Linked DNA regions of Homo sapiens: region 2 is linked to region 1. A link means that fine-mapping ties the variant in region 1 to the expression of a gene that starts in the linked region. Tissue or cell type: spinal cord. Region 1 holds a variant in brackets; the other region holds the start of a gene. All regions are shown on one strand. Distances are from middle to middle.

The links. PIP is the estimated chance that this variant, and not a neighbour inherited with it, causes the effect.
Region 2: it holds the start of GREM1-AS1, and the variant in region 1 is fine-mapped to the expression of GREM1-AS1 in spinal cord (GTEx, PIP 0.96).

Annotation. Positions count from the first base shown.
Region 1 is chr15:32,665,352-32,668,111 of GRCh38, forward strand. All of the region lies in intron 10 of ARHGAP11A-SCG5 (ARHGAP11A-SCG5 readthrough), which reads left to right. All of the region lies in intron 2 of SCG5 (secretogranin V), which reads left to right. SCG5-AS1 (SCG5 antisense RNA 1) reads right to left here. Exons shown (of 4, transcript NR_135505.1): 3 at 1,088-1,137; 4 at 351-566. LOC124903458 (a long non-coding RNA gene) reads left to right here. Exons shown (of 2, transcript XR_007064573.1): 1 at 1-214; 2 at 1,452-1,769. Among named protein-coding and RNA genes, the nearest start is that of SCG5-AS1, 6.3 kb to the right of the region's middle. The variant C/T (reference allele first, on the strand shown) is at 1,403.
Region 2 is chr15:32,717,437-32,719,936 of GRCh38, forward strand. It overlaps GREM1-AS1 (GREM1 antisense RNA 1), which reads right to left and starts at 1,429. Exons shown (of 2, transcript NR_109767.1): 1 at 1,109-1,429; 2 at 665-928. It overlaps GREM1 (gremlin 1, DAN family BMP antagonist), which reads left to right and starts at 568. Exons shown (of 2, transcript NM_013372.7): 1 at 568-725. RefSeq lists enhancers at 74-574, 712-1,290, 1,291-1,868.

The DNA of each region.
Region 1 (2,760 bases):
TTCTGGTTTGGGGTTTTTTTTTTTATTTGTTTGTTTAAGTCTCGTTTCTGACACTTTCTGAAAGATGCAACATGGAGATAGGCCAGGAGGGAAACTAGTTTTAGGGTGTTCTCATTACATTCATTTTATGTCATTTTTTATTATTAGGTTTACATTATTGAATTCCTGTGGAGAAGAGGAGTCAGAGCTGTGAATAAGTCATAAGTCCCTATAGGTAAAATCAAGTACTATTTGTCTCTGATCAAAATTGCCCTTTCCATTGATAGGAGAAATGACTGGGCCTCCTTGTCATCCAGAGTTCATTTTGTTTTTCGTGGCAGTTTCACTGTCTTTGGGAATTGAGCTTTTTGAAATGTTAAAGCACGAGAAGCATGAACACCTTGGCAGGGTTTGCAGTATCTCCTTCTAGTGCAGGATGGAGGGCTCCAGAGCTGGCAATTTGAGGAATGGCTGGTGGCTTCTGATGTCACCTGCCACTCATGTGTCCCTCCCTGTTTTGAATCATGGATCTCAAACATCCTCAAAAGCTCTTCCCTGGTAATTTCAAAACTCTGAACAAATCAATCCTAAGAAAAAATAAACAAACATGCAGAAGAGCAGAAGGATATTTAGGATATGGTTCTAATTAAAATTTTTAAGTTTTCCTTTTTCAAAATCCTGTATGAGCTATTAAATAGGGAAAAACAAACTTCTGAGTAGGAAAGAAATAAAGGCCATTACCCTTAGAGATTTTGAATCTTACAATAAACAAATAGGTCTTCTTTTCCCCGAATGTTTCTTCTTATCAACACAAGGGAGTTGAGTGATGGCTACAGCTCTAAAATACTGAACATGGCTGCCTACTGAATTCAGCATACATACGTAGGGATATGTTACATAAGATGCACATACATACTTTATTTCTATTAGCCTGTGAAACAGTGAACATGCCTGCTCTTATAAAGCTTCTAGTAAAGGAACTACAAAAGAAACACATCTACTGGGCATTCTCACACTGGCTGAGGTAGGTTGGAACCATCTGGATTCTTGCCTGTGGCATAGTTAACCTCGTGACTATCCAGTTTTCCAATTATCCAGGCCCATTTACCTCTGCTCCCACTCAGCGAGCCCTTTGGCTATTTCTCTGTTCATTGGCACCTAAAGTCAAGGAGAAAGAAACGAACATTTATTAAGTGCTATGTTTGTACCAGTTAATCTTCTCAATGAAGTATTATTATCACCCCTGTTTTACAGAGAAGGAAACTAATATTCAAAGAGGTAAGATAACTTGTTCAGGACCACATATGTTTTTAAGTATAGAGCTCATGCATTATAAAGTGACCACCCTAGCTAACATTTATTAAGCACAATATTTGCCAGAATTCTTGCAAAAAGCCTTACAAGGACTATTTTATTTTATCCT[C/T]ATACCAACGGCTTAAGGATGGTATTACTTAAGTATTCTTGTTTTACAGATGAGGTCATACAGCTAAGGTGATGAGGCCAATATTCAAACTCAAGCATCTGGATTGCAGGCTGCACTTTTGATCGCCATGTCTAGCCTCCTCTATACACCTGCTCTGACCGATTTGGTATTCACCACGCCCAAGAGGCTACTGAACACCTGAAATATGGCTGGCTGGAGTTGTGATGTACTCTAAGTATAAACTACACACCCTATTTGGAAGACAGTATGCAAAAAAGAATATAAAAAGTCTCTTTGGCAATTCTTTATATCAATTACATGTTGAAATGATAATTTGGATATATTGGGATTAAAAATTATTTAATTTCACTATTTCTTTTTACTTTTTGAAGTGAGAAGACTAGACAATTTAAAATTACAAATGTAGTTCATATTCTATTTCTATAGAACAGCACTGCTATATACTATTTTAAAATAATATATAAAGGGGACTAGAACTGACTCAGGCCAACATTATTTTTCATCAATAGTTCTAGTTAAAAATTTGGTTGGAAGTGGGTGGATGGGAAGGTTGAAGCCCATTTTTAAAGATAAGTTTGGTGTTTTTATGAATTTGAGTTATGTGTGCTTTCTTCACCCGTTTTACCATGTGTGGGTAAGAGACTTGCCATTTTTAAGAATCAGAAGAATTCTGTGAGGTGTATTTCCAGTGTCTGTGTGTAGTGCTGCAGCTGTCTGAGCGTATTGCCGGAGGCACCTCCTTTGGACTTTAAGGCACGAATTGCTCATCACTGTCCACACAGCTTTGTGGCCGCCTTTGAGTCTATCTCTTTTAACATAACATTGAGTTCTGGCTCCAGGTCTGGCACAAAGTTGATAATAACTAGTGAATACTGTTTTGTTTGGTTTGTTGTAGTTTTATTCTTTTTTTTTTTTTGAGACAGAGTCTCACTGTGTCGCCCAGGCTGGAGTGCAGTGGCACAGTCTCGGCTCACTGCAGCCTCCGCCTCCTGGGTGCAAGTGATTCTCCTGCCTCAGCCTTTCGAGTAACTGGGACTACAGGCACACACCAGCATGCCTGGATAACTTTTTTGTATTTTTATTACAGATGGGGTTTCACCATGTTGGCCAGGCTGGTCTCAAACTCCTGACCTCAAGTGATCCACCCGCTTCGGCCTCCCAAACTTCTGGGATTATAGGCATGAGCCACCGGACCCACTTTATTCTTAATACCTATTGCCAGGCAGAGGTTACATGGATATAAAAGAGAGAAATTGGGAATATTTGTATGAGATGGGAAACCACAGGCCAGGAAAGCATTACCAAAGGGTTGTAGAGGATTTAGTCTGGGCCCCTCC
Region 2 (2,500 bases), 52 kb after region 1:
GCCGGGGTCAGCGCCCTCGAAGTTGGGGGCCTCGGGCGGGGCCGCCGGGGAGCCACGACGGCCGCTCGACCAGAGCATCCCGCAGTCCCGTTCCCTCCAGAGGGGAAGAATGGCCGAATCTGGCACGATCCCACGGAGATCTCGCTCTTCCCAGCGCAGTCTCCGCTACTGAGCGCGGGACCAACGCAGGCGATGCCGGGCGGCCGACAGGGAAAGCCCAGACCTGGGGCAGAGAAGGAATGAGGGGCCGCCAGCCGGGGGGATTTCCTCCCGCTCTTCCCTCTCCAACGGGAGCGGAAAATGTGATTTGCTGTGCATTCCAGGCGCGGTTCCCTGGGGTGACCTCTCCCAGCCGGCCCGGGCGGGGGGAGCAGACAAAGAGGCGAGGCGGGCGGAGAGGGGACCCCGCGGGGAAGCAGGAGGGGTGCGGGGGGCGGGGGCAGTACCGGGAAAGGGGGCGGATAGCGGGTCTGGCGGCGGCGGCGGCGCCTGGCCAATGGAGAGGCGCGGCCCCGGGCGCCGCGCTCTGCCGCCGGCATTTAAACGGGAGACGGCGCGATGCCTGGCACTCGGTGCGCCTTCCGCGGACCGGGCGACCCAGTGCACGGCCGCCGCGTCACTCTCGGTCCCGCTGACCCCGCGCCGAGCCCCGGCGGCTCTGGCCGCGGCCGCACTCAGCGCCACGCGTCGAAAGCGCAGGCCCCGAGGACCCGCCGCACTGACAGGTGAGCGCGGACGCACCCGGCAGGGATGTGAGTGGGCGGAGGGAAGAGGGCCGCAAACCAACCCAGGACCCGCTCAGTTCCACGCGCGGCAGCCCTCCGTGCGCGCAGGCTCGGGTGCGTTGTTCGCGGGGGTGAATTGTGAAGAACCATCGCGGGGTCCTTCCTGCTGAGGCCGCGGACACCGTGACCTCGCTGCTCTGGGTCTGCAGGGAAACGTAGGAAAAAAAGTTGTCAGGAGCGGGCAGGATGACCCCCACATCCCGTTTCCACCTCCCGGAGGCCCCCGAACACGCTCCTGGTGCTGGTGGCAGCAGCGCCTGGCAGACGCGCCCGCTTAGCGAGGGCGCGAAGTCCAGGCCGCCAGAGCGCAGGAGCATCCGGACCTGCTAGTCGGCCGCTGACTGCGCGGCGAGTTGCCTTGAGAGGGTCCCATGTGCTTGGGGCGCCGCGCTGGGTCTGGGGGCGTCTTGGGGCGCCCATTGGAGTCCGCGGGTTGGAGCATCCGGAGAATCCATGATGTGTGCATTTGCCGATCCCCGAGGTGAGATGGAGACTGGCAAGGGCAGAGCCGCTGTGTTCAGCCACAGCGGAAAACCGAACGGTGGGTAATCCGACAGCTGCGGTGCGGGGCGCGGCCCTGGCCGCGGGGTCCAGCGAACCCGCAGTGCTCACAAGGCAGACACCACACGCGCTCGCGGACCGGCCACGCACTCGCGGGCGCTCGCTTCTCTACTCCAGCCTCTTCCCCGCCCCGCGCACGCCCGGGCTGAATGGTAGACGTTCTGGCGCCGGGCAGCGGCCACCGGCTGGTTCCCACTTCCGCGCGCACCCCTTAAACTGTGTTCTAGAGGCCCCAGCCTCGCCTTGCAGCGCCTCACTAGCTCCTGAGGACTAGGGACTGGCGGCTGAGGCGGGTTGGCGGCTGCAACGAGCTGGGCGTCTTTCGTTCTCTCTCGCTGCCTGGCTGGCTCCGCTGGCCCCTCCACAGCTTGCGGAGCAAGGCCATAGCAGGGGAGTGGGAGGTATATTGGGGCTGTCACCTCCTTGCTGGCCGGAGTTATTTGTAGACTACAGACTCCGGAAGAACAGACGCGCCACCGCTCTCGCTTGGCATTGCCTTCGGATCGCAGCTCCTCCTTGGGGGTGCCCCAGCTTGGCGTTTATTTGCCTGCGCCAGGCTCTGGCGACGGTCACCGGGCCAGGCGGGGAGGGACGGACGGCAGGTGACCAGCCTCTGCTGTGAAGAAATTCCTGCGCGCCCGGAGCTGTCCCTAATGCATTCCCGGGTCGAATCCGTCTACTGCCTTCCCCTCCTCGACCGACTCCGAATCTCGGCTCTTATAGACAGAAATACAGCCTCAGCGTTAGGGGTTAAAATCCCCCTCTTAAACGGTCCGAGGGCAGAGAGGTGACCACCGATAGGTAATTGGATCTCCTGCTGGAAAGAGCAAATCTGAGCGGTGTGCGCGTCTGTTTATGTTCCCCTTCGAGATGGTGCCAGGACACGAACTGATTAAAACAATCTATTGTGTTAAGTGGGTCACTAGGGTTTTAAGCTGTCCCAGGGACCCCAGAGTAGTGGCTTCCTTCTGGCTGTACACACAAGTTAAATAAATAGCGTAGAAGAGGTTAAGATAACCCCATTCTAGGGTGAGGAGTCCTCTTTCATCCCTAGGGCTTCCCCCTCCCCTTTTCTCTTTTTTTGGAAGGAGGGGGAGCATGAGAGTCTTGAGGGGGGGATGTACTTTTCAAAGCAAGGAGGGAAAGATCTTAAG